3 linked regions of the Homo sapiens genome follow. The protein of the gene in region 1 purifies or fractionates together with the protein of each later gene. This does not show direct contact. Each region holds a gene or a part of one and is shown in the gene's direction. Other genes may lie near its edges. The genes, in order: TSNARE1, SNAP29 and APOD.

Evidence for each region.
Region 2: the proteins of TSNARE1 (region 1) and SNAP29 purify together in Homo sapiens (affinity purification with mass spectrometry; 2 studies listed by BioGRID and IntAct, with this or other methods). This does not show direct contact.
Region 3: the proteins of TSNARE1 (region 1) and APOD purify together in Homo sapiens (affinity purification with mass spectrometry; 2 studies listed by BioGRID and IntAct, with this or other methods). This does not show direct contact.

What each region holds. Positions count from the first base shown.
Region 1 is NC_000008.11:142,347,578-142,351,226, reverse strand, and holds part of TSNARE1 (t-SNARE domain-containing protein 1), read left to right. Parts: intron 1-3,649.
Region 2 is NC_000022.11:20,875,946-20,879,594, forward strand, and holds part of SNAP29 (synaptosomal-associated protein 29), read left to right. Parts: intron 1-3,649. UniProt on the Homo sapiens protein: SNAREs, soluble N-ethylmaleimide-sensitive factor-attachment protein receptors, are essential proteins for fusion of cellular membranes.
Region 3 is NC_000003.12:195,577,441-195,581,089, reverse strand, and holds part of APOD (apolipoprotein D precursor), read left to right. Parts: intron 1-1,594; 5' UTR 1,595-1,628; coding exon 1,629-1,751; intron 1,752-3,649. UniProt on the Homo sapiens protein: APOD occurs in the macromolecular complex with lecithin-cholesterol acyltransferase. It is probably involved in the transport and binding of bilin. Appears to be able to transport a variety of ligands in a number of different contexts.

The sequences.
Region 1 (3,649 bases):
AAACACATCAAAGTAGACTCAGACGCGTCACAGCCCCTGGTGTACCTTGGCTTCCCCTCACTGCTCGTGGCCAGTGTGGCGGTACATGTGCCCCCAAACTGCTTCCCTGCTGTGTCATTCCGGAGTAAATCCCAGATAGCAGATCATCTCATCTGGTAATATTTCAGCGTGTCTCTAAAAGAGAAGGACTCCTTTTATGTGTGACCAGATTTCCACTGTGACAGCACGTTTGGCTGCCATACCCGACCTGCAGTTGAAGTGGCCGACGGCCTCTAGGAGTGTCTGTTTCAGAGATGCCGTTTAACGTGGAGCCTCCCGAGATCCCGTGTTACAGCTGACCTATGCTCCTCCTTCGAGTGTGTCTCTGTCTCTGGCTTCCCTCCATCTCTTTATTTCCCTCCAAGTTTATTTGTTGAAGAAACCAGGGTTTTCCTGTGTGGTGTAATTGATTTTTGTGTACTGGTTTGTGTCCAGCCATGTTGCTAAACCCTTTTTATTGTAATTATTTGTCTGTGGAATCTGTTGAGCTTTCCCTGTAGATGGTGGTGTTTGTGCATAATGACAGTGTTTTCGCTCCTTTTCCAGTGCTTTCACCTATTATGTGTTTCTTTTCCTGGCTGGAACCTCTACTGCAGTGTTGAATGGAGATGGTGGTTCTATTCTTGGTGAGTTTGTGGAAGAACAGGATTATGTATTCCTTGAATGTTTCTGGGTTTTTGCTGTAAAACTATGTGGGTCTAGTGTTTTCCTTTGTGGAAAGATTTTCTGACTACCAGTTAATTCCTCTAGTTGTCAAACGTTATTCAGGCTTTCTGTTTCTTCTTGGGTCAGTTTTGTTAAGTTGCATTTTTCTGGAAATTCGACTGTTTTATCTAAATGTTCAACTTACTGAAATGAAATTGTACACAATAGCCTTTCGCTGTCAGTTGTGACACTGGGGCACCCTCATGTAATGGTTAAGATGCAGATGCAGAAGCCGGCCTGCCCTGGTCCCAGCCCTGCCCGCCCTGCCTGCCCTGGTCCCAGCCCTGCCTGCCGAGGTCCCAGCCCTGCCCACCCTGCCTGCCCTGATCCCAGCCCTGCCCGCCCTGCCTGCCCTGGTCCCAGCCTTGCCTGCCCTGCCTGCCCTGCCTGCCCTGCCTGCCCTGCCTGCCCTGGTCCCAGCCCTGCCTGCCCTGGTCCCAGCCCTGCCCGCCCTGCCTGCCCTGGTCCCAGCCTTGCCCGCCCTGCCTGCCCTGGTCCCAGCCTTGCCTGCCCTGCCTGCCCTGGTCCCAGCCCTGCTAGTCTTTGTCCCAGCGTGCCAGCCCTGCCTGCTTGGTCCCTGCCCTGTCTGCCTTGCCCTGTCTACCCACCCTGCCTGCCTTGGTCTCAGCCCTGCCCACCCTGCTGCTCATGAGCTTTGTGAACTCAGGGTTGGGAAGGGGAGGTGAGAAGAGACCTCCGGCCTGGTGGTCATGCAGATGGATGTGTCGACACCCGTGAAGCTCGGGCAGGGCCGCTGAGGGCCAGTGGTGGCTGCTGCTGCTTTCACAGCCACAGCATCTCAACCACGTCCCCTTTCTCATTCCTGATATTCTGTATTTGTACCTTCTCTGTCTTCTTTTATAGTCAGTATCGACAGAGACCTGGCAGTTCCACAGGTCTCTGCAGAGATATGGCCCCTGGCTTCCCCCTTCTGTGCGTGCGAGTTTTAAATTGTGATTGATTTCTGCTCATAGTTTCATCATTTCCCTCCTTTCTTTAAGTTGATGCTATTTTATTTTTCTGACTCCCAGATTGAATATTTACCACATTCACCATGAATATGGTAAATATTCATTTCTAATAAAAGCATTGGAAATTAGAAATTTCCCTAGAAACTGCTTTAGTTGAATATCACACATTTTGAAATGTATAGTATTTTAAATTTTTTTTCAGTTCTAAATATCTTTAACTTTCCATTATGATTTCTTTGTTTAGGAATTACTTGGAAGTTTACTTCATCATTTTCAGATGTACTTTTTTCCAGTTGTCTTTTTAAAGTGATTTCAAACCCGAACACACATCTGAAAGAAAAGCACCAGTGTTGTCCCGGTTTGTTGAAAATCGTCGCGCTGGGGCTGCTTCTGGGGCATGGGGGCGAGCCTGGCTCAGTGCCTCCTTTGCTCCCCTCAGCTCTTGGCCTTCTGTGTGGGCGGGGCCTTCGAGGACCCTCAGAGCTGGGCAAGGCCTTCCAGGCAGGCTGGTGGGGCCTGGACAAATTCCCCATGGGTGTAGGGTCAGCTGCATGTGCCCAGTCCCTGCTGTGTGCCAAAGTCCTGCCACCCTAACTGTGCAGCACCTTAGGGCCGTCGTGTCACTATAACGTTCTCTGGACAGAGGCAGCAAAAAGCCAGCTAGTGAGTCGTCAACTCATAAATAACTCAGATACACAGAAGAAAGCTCCCCAGAGCTCCATGCACACGGGCCAGCTCTGTGGACAGCTAGGACATGTAGCTGTCTCCTCAGCGCACCAGCAGCGGTCAGCCTCACGATAACCTGGCAGGAAAAGAAAATGTCGACACGCCCTTGGCAGCCTGGGGCGGGAGCGGGGGCCAGGGGAGGGTGGGCATGGGGTGCCGGGAGCAGCCAGCTTTGGGGCAGCCTGGGGCGGGAGCGGGGGCCAGGGGAGGGTGGGCATGGGGTGCCGGGAGCAGCCAGCTTCGGGGCAGCCTGGGGCGGGAGCGGGGGCCAGGGGAGGGTGGGCATGGGGTGCCGGGAGCAGCCAGCTTGGGGCGGCCGGGAGTGTTCCTTCTCTTAGCCCAGCCGTGCTTCCTCTTGGACTCTGTCTTAGGAGATAGACACACGGGCAGAGGTGTTCACCACATGTGATTTGTGCGAGTGCTGACTCAGAAATACTGTAAGCATCTGGCTTTAGGGAGACGATGTGTTACAGCTGGGATAGAATTTGACGCAGGCATTAAAATCACATCGTCGAAGGCTCTCTAGTGACCCGCGCACGTTCTGTGATTTGTGGCGAATGTGGTGCGTGGAAGAAGCAAAGCCATACGTGCAGCATTTGCTTGTGGGAGACAGCCGCCCACCTCCAGGGTTAATGTTTATCTCTGGATGTTGTGATCTTTATTTTTTTATTTATAACTGTCTGCATTTACATTTTTTCTGTAATTTGTGGGTATTATTCTATTCAAAAGCAAACAGCAAATGTCCCAGGCCTGTCCCTGCCATGTTCTAGGTTCACGTGGCTCAGGTGGGCAGAGCATACTGGCCCCTCGAGGGGCGTGGGGAGCAGCGTGGAATAACGTTGGTGCAGTGGGCAGGACCTGGACTTGGGTGAGTGGATGCAGTGTGGTGAGGTGATGACATGTCCTTCTGGACTTGGGTGAACGGATGCAGTGTGGCGAGGTGATGGCGTGTCCTTCTGGACTTGGGTGAGCGGATGCAGTGTGGCGAGGTGATGGCGTGTCCTTCTGGACTTGGGTGAGCGGATGCAGTGTGGCGAGGTGATGGCGTGTCCTTCTGGACTTGGGTGAGCGGATGCAGTGTGGCGAGGTGATGGCGTGTCCTTCTGGACTTGGGTGAGCGGATGCAGTGTGGCGAGGTGATGGCGTGTCCTTGAGTGACAGCAGGGCCTGTGGTCTCTCTGGGGGCCTGTGGGACCCCATTTCTGAGC
Region 2 (3,649 bases), on another chromosome or scaffold:
GGTCAGGAGATCGAGACCATCCTAGCTAACACGGTGAAACCCCGTCTCTACTAAAAATACAAAAAATTAGCCAGGGGTGATGGTGGGCACCTGTAGTCCCAGCTGCTTGGGAGGCTGAGGCAGGAGAATGGCATGAACCCGGGAGGTGGAGGTTGCAGTGAGCCAAGATCAAGCCACTGCAGTCCAGCCTGGGCGACAGAGACTCCATCTCAAAAAAAAAAAATGCAATAAATTGTGAGTAAAATTTTTGTGATCCTGTCAAAACCTTTAATCCATAAATGCAGGAATACTGTCACTTAAAAACTTTGCCTTTTTTTTTTTTTTTTTTTTAAGACAATGTCTCGCTCTGTCGCCCAGGCTGGAGTGCAGTGGTGCAGTCTCTGCTCACTGTATCCTCCACCTCCCAGGATCCAGCAACCCTCCCACCTCTGCCTCCCAAGTAGCTGGGACTACATGCATGGGCCACCATGCACTGCTAATTTTCGTATTTTTTGTAGAAACAAGGTCTCACTTTGTCTCCCAGGCTGATCTCAACCACCTGGGCTCAACTGATCTTCCCGCCTCAGCCTCCCAAAGTGCTAGGATTGCAGGCATGAGCCACTGTGCCTGGCCCACTTAAAAGCTTTTTTTTTTTTTTTTTGAGATGGAATCTCGCTCTGTCACCCAGGCTGGAGTGCAGTGGCGTGATCTCGGCTCACTGCAAGCTCCGTCTCCCACGTTCACGCCATTCTCCTGCCTCAGCTTCCCAAGCAGCTGGGACTACAGGCACCCGCCACCACGCCCGGCTAAATTTTTTTTGTATTTTTAGTAGAGATGGGGTTTCACCATGTTAGCCAGGATGGTCTCGATCTCCTGACCTAGTGATCTGCCCGCCTCGGCCTCAAAAGCTTTTAAAATAAGTTTCTCCTATCAAACTTCTGTTCAGTCATGCATTTCCTGTGTACATCATTATCACACAAACCCTTCGGCCTTCTCTGAAGTTTTGTCTCTTGGGAAGCCCTGTTTGTCCTTGCTGACAGCTTTCCAAGCTGCTTGTTCTCATTTCCACTTACAGCTCATGCGTTCCTGTCACATATGCACCCTTAATTTGAAATTCTCTAACTTATTTAAGACTTGGTTTCTGACCAGGAACCACCCTCTCTTAAACCTCTACTGTCTTATCACTTTTCTCAGTCTCCCTAGAAATTGGCTTTCTTGGCTGAGCGTGGTGGCTCACGCCTATAATCCCAGCACTTTGGAGGTTGAGGTGGGCGGATCACAAAGTCAGGTGTTCAAGACCAGCCTAGCCAACATGATGAAACCCTGTCTCTACTAAAAATACAAAAATCAGGCCTGGCACGGTGGCTCACGCCTGTAATCCCAGCACTTTGGGAGGCCAAGGAGGGTGGATCACCTGAGGTCAGGAGTTCGAGACCAGCCTCACCAACATGGAGAAACCCTGTCTCTACTAAAAATACAAAATGAGCCAAGCAAGGTGGCACACACCTGTAATCTCAGCTACTTGGGAGGCTGAGGCAGGAGAATCGCTTGAACCAGGGAGGCAGAGGTTGCAGTAAGCCAAGATCGCACCATTGTACCCCAGCCTGGGCAACAAGAGCAGAACTCCCTCTAAAAAAAAAAATTAGCCGGGCGTAGTGGCGCTCACCTATAATCCCAGCTACTCAGGAGGCTGAAGCAGGAGAATCTCTTGAACCAGGGAGGTGGAGGTTGCAGTGAGCCGAGGTCATGCCCCTGCACTCCAGCCTGGGAGACAGAGCTAGACTCCGTCTCAAAAAAAGAAAAAGAAAAAAATTGGCTTTCTTTGTGGGGGAGCCATTTTTCACAAAGAAACCATTGTTTTCCTCATTTATGTATTACCAGTATATATGTGATGGCACATAGAAAGAATAAAGCCAGCGTTGAGATGTGCAGGCTGAAAGGTGGCCAGGCAGACTCAGAAGCCAAGTGTCTCTTCCTACTCCCAGCATGGCAATGCACTGCCCACAGTGGTGCTTAGAGGAGCCAGTTCTGTGTTCTAGACTTTCAGTCACAGCTTCCGTGGGGTGAAATCCTGGAGTGTTAAATCCTTCCATTCACCAGGCTCTGCTGCATTCTACCCATAGCTGGAGCCCTGGGCCTGCAAAACCCTTAGCTTGCGGGAGTCTGGACTTGCTCTTGCAAGTTGGGAGTCATTAAAGACTTTAACTGAAGAGGTGCTTGCCAGTATTGCTTTAGAAAGATGCGCAGCACCCATGGGGAGTAAGGATTGGAAGGGAGGGAATTGAATTGAGAGGCATTGCCATAATCCTTGTTAAAGGTAAAGAAAAGCAAGGCAGGCCGGGCACGGTGGCTCAAGCCTGTAATCCCAGCACTTTGGGAGGCCGAGGCGGGCAGATCATGAGGTCAGGAGATCGAGACCATCCTGGCTAACACAGTGAAACCCTGTCTCTAAAATACAAAATACAAAATAAAATACAAAAACCCTGTACTAAAAATACAAAAAATTAGCCGGGCGTGGTGGCGGGCGCCTGTAGTCCCAGCTACTTGGGAGGCTGAGGCAGGAGAATGGCGTGAACCCAGGAGGCGGAGCTTGCAGTGCGTGGAGATCACGCCACTGCACTCCAGCCTGGGTGACAGAGCGAGACTATGTCTCAAAAAAAAAAGGCAAGGCAGAAGGAGAGGCTGGGTTTCTGGGCTACTTAGGGGGTGGGAGATCAAGAGGGCGTTTGTTTTGCCTGGATTACTGGGAGTAGCGCTGTGCAGGGGGAGGGCAAAAATTGCGAGTAACCCTGATTCCCAGATTGGCTGGCGAAGTGGTCAGGCTGCTGTTGAGATAGAGGAGAGCAGGCTGTTGGGGAGGCACAGCTCCCAGCTGGAGGCACCTGCCATACCTTAGGGGGCTCAGCAGGATGTCGGGGATCAGCAGGGCATCAGGCATAGTCTAAATGACTTTGAGTTGCAAGAGCTATCCCTGTCTACAGCCAGAGTCAGCAAACTAGGCCACGGAGCAAAATCAAAGATATTTTATAGGGACTTACGTGATGAGAAAAAAACATACTTTCACAACTTTTTAGTGACAAAATTTAAAATATAAAAACAGTGGCCGGGTGCAGTGGCTCACGCCTGTAATCCCAGCACTTTGGGAGGCCAAGGTGGGCGGATCACGAGGTCAGGAGATCGAGACCATTCCGGCTAACACGGTGAAACCCCGTCTCCACTAAAAATACAAAAAATTAGCCGGGCGTGGTAGTGGGCGCCTGTAGTCCCAGCTACTCAGGAGGCTGAGACAGGAGAATGGTGTAAACCTGGTCAGCAGAGGTTGCAGTGAGCCGAGATCGTGCCACTGCACTCCAGCCTGGGCAACAGAGTGAGACTCCATCTCAAAAAAAAAAAAAAAAAGTAATAGGCTGGACACAGTGGCTCATGCCTGCATGGCTGTAATCCTGGCACTTTTGGAGGCTGAGGCAGGGGGATCACTTGAGTAGGCACCTGTAATCCCAGCTACTCAGGAGGCTGAGGCAGAAGAATAGCTTGAACCCGGGAGATGGAGGTTGCAGTAAATCGAGATCACGCCACTGCACTCCAGCCTGGGCAACAGAGCAAGACTCTGTCTCAAAAAGAAAAAACAATTTAAGAATTGGCCAAGCATGGTGGCTTATGCCTGTAATCC
Region 3 (3,649 bases), on another chromosome or scaffold:
ATAAAGCAGTTATAATTATTCCTGTAATGACACATCCTTCGAAATGCTCAGATCTGAGAACATTTTGCTTGCATTGCATCAGTCATCATCATTACAGGGAGAAATGCAGAGAGCTGGAAATAGCTCGTGTGCAAGCTACAGGCAAGGAGTCACAAGGAAAGGAGCAAATTGACAGCGAGTCAGTGAAGGAAACAGGGGAGCTTCCAATGCCCAGAACCTGCACACAGTCCTGCAGCCTCTGTCTCCCTGCCTTGCTGCCCCGCTTCAAAGCCAGCTTCTGCTGCCAAAGGACTCTTGGGGTTGAAATGCTTGTTGCACAGTTACACATCAGCTGACAGTCCTTCTCTGATTTAATGAACTTCATCTATGAAAAATACCCTCAACAGGCCGGGTGCGGTGGCTCAGGCCTGTAATCCCAGCACTTTGGGAGGCCAAGGCGGGTGGATCCCCTGAGGTCAGGAGTTTGAGACCAGCATGGCCAACATGGTGAAACCCTGTCTCTACTAAAAATACCAAAATTAGCCGGGAGTTGTGGTGGACACCTGTAATCCCAGCTACTCAGGAGTCTGAGGCAGGAGAATCACTTGAACCCGGGAGACAGAGGTTGCAGTGAGCCGAGATTGTGCCACTGCACTCCAGCCTGGGTGACAGAGTGAGACTCCATCTCAAAACAAAACAAAACAAAACAAAAACCCTCAACAGAATGTCAAAAAAAAAAAAAGAAGAAAGAAAGAAGAAAAGAAAAGAAAGAAGAAACCTGGGAAATACCATCATCTTTCTGCTTTTGATAATAACAATAACTAGCATTTATTGAGCATTTACTCTGTATCAGACACTCCTCTAAGTACTCTCTGTATATTATCTCATTTAATTCTCACAAAAATTCATGAGCTAGGAATGATAATTATTCCCATTTACTAGACAAAGAAGCTAAGGCATAAATTGGACACAGTTATACTTAGTATGGGGCAGAGTCACAATTTGAACCTGGCTGGGGTGACCCTGGAGCCCCCAGCAGGCCGCTCCCTGTTAAGGTTTCCAAGCGCACTCTTGGGCTGGTAGAACAGCCAGCAAGACGAGGGCAGGGGGAGGGATGGTGTCAGAGAGGCATCTCCCTGAAGAATCTCAGAGGACACTAAGTGTTGGGCAACATTTGGTTTGGTTTCGTGTCTTTCGTGGTTCACTTGGAGGCTTTAATCCCCCACTTTACATAGCCCTCTCCACGCTGTTTCTGTTCATTTGACAAGTATCTACTGAGCCGACACTTTGAGGTCCGTGGGTGATTCTGAGGAGAACTAGACACAGTGCCCATCCTGGGAGATGCATAATTAGGTGGGACAGGGGTGAAAATCAATCCAACAAACCAGAATACCAGGCAGAGAGCGCCCTCGTGGAGGTGCAGAGGCTCTGAGGAAGGCCTCACAGCAACAAGGACAGGCAGGTGTTCCCCTGCAGGATGAGGGTTCACATGGGCTGGGGAGAGAAGAGGAGGGACCGCCCACAGAGGGGACCATGGGCACAGCACTCTTACTTCATGATTGTGTGGCCTTAGAAGGCTCAGAATGACAACCCCAGCTGCTTTGCGTTCCCGCAGCTCCAGGTCCCTTCTCCAGCCACCCAGCCCCAAGATGGTGATGCTGCTGCTGCTGCTTTCCGCACTGGCTGGCCTCTTCGGTGCGGCAGAGGGACAAGCATTTCATCTTGGGAAGTGCCCCAATCCTCCGGTGCAGGAGAATTTTGACGTGAATAAGGTAAAAGGCGAACCTCCCGTTTGTTTTGCTGCCTCCGCTGTGAATAAGCGTTCTACAAGGTTCAATGTAATTATGCTGCTTTAATTTCCACTGCACACCTTGGGACAAGTATTTATCTTATTTGGGGTTTCCCCAAAGCAGACATCTGCTGAGATAAAGACTGCAGGCAGAGAGGTTTGGGATGATCCCGGGACGCACGAGAGCAGGTGGGAAGGTGAGTCGGAGACAGCACAGAAGCAATAAAGGGTGCGTTCCTGAGCTGTCGCCCTGGGCCGTCAGGGTCAGTCACACTGGGCACCCTCTGAGGACACGTGGAGCATGCCCCTCCGATTGTCCCACAGCTGCTGCCAGCAGGTCATGGGAGCATCCGTGGCTCTAGCTGAGCCCCCTGGCAGAGGAGAGACACAGGGTCTCAGGTGGGAGGCTGGCAGTGTCTGGGAATTGCCTACCGTGGCTGCGGTGAACTCAGAGGTGGGCTGAGGGGAACAGGACCAGGGAACCATAGTAGCTGCTACAGAGCTATTATCCTTGTTCTACAGATGCAGCATCGGAATCTCCCTCCCCAGCTCACGCAGCTGGTAAATGCAAGTAGGATTCAAAACCAGGCTTCTCAGCAGTGCAGGGCACCCAAAGGTCACTCAAACAGGGCTCAGGAAAGCCCAAAATTCTCCAGGGGGCTTTCTTGGTATCTGCACCAAAATGTCATCAATACAACGAGCTCCTCCATAGATGGTCTTTCTTCCTGGGGTTTAGCGGGAGGGGAAGGAAGAGGGCGGCAGAAAGAGGCAGCTATTGGAGGACAGGACTCACAGGCTCCCACTGTTGCTACTCAAGCCTGGAATCTCACCCTTAAGACTTCCTCTCCTTAGGAGAAGGTTTGGATCTCTTTTAAGAATGGCAACAGTAACATCGAAGTTGTTATCATACACTCGCACCTCAAGGTGAATGAGTGTTGGGACCTCTGAGGGGACGCTGGGTGGGAGAAGGAGCACCATCCATGGGATCAGGAGATACAGGTGTGGTAGGAAGAGGCCATAGAGTACACTAACGTCTACACTGACTTGCTCCACTTACAGGCTGATCCCTTTATTCAGGTAACTCTGATAGACCACAGAGAGGCTTTAAAGAAAACATCCAAGGAATCTGAGTTATACTTTCGCTTTTGGATACAAATCCCAAAGCACTTTGGAAATGATAACTGATCTGTATTTATAGAAGTCCTTTGAGAATTAAAGCAGGATTTAAAAAATAGCAGCTTTATTGAGATATAATTTGTATAGCACGTAATTCACTTGTTTAAAGTAGCTTTTCACTTTCCATTGTTGTTAGTATCATCACAGAGTTACGCAACCATCACCACCACCATCGATTTAGAACATTTCACTGTTCCGAAAAGGAACCTCATACCCATTCACGGAGTCTCCATCTCCCCTCCAACCCTTCCAGCCCCAGGCAACCACTAATCTACTTTCTGTCTCCGAATTTGCCTATTCTGCATATTTGATAAAAATGAAATCATACTATATGTGGTCTTTTGTGACTGGTTTACTGAACGTTTTCAAGGTTCATCCACGTTGTAGCATGTATCAATACTATATCCCCTTTTATTGCCAAATAATATTCTTGTAGGAAATCGTTATAGGAAATCAATTGACTGTATATGTGAGAGTTTATTTTTGCACTCTCAGTTCTATTGATCTATATGTCTATACTTATGCCAGTACCACACAGTGTTGATTACTATAGCTTTGTAGTAATCAAAGCCTTGAGGTAAGCTTTGAAATAAGAACACATGTGTCCTCCAACTTTGTTCTTCTGGTTATTCCGTGTCCCTTACATTTTTATATGAATTTTAGGATCAGCGTGTCAATTTCTGCAAATAATCCAATTGGAATTTG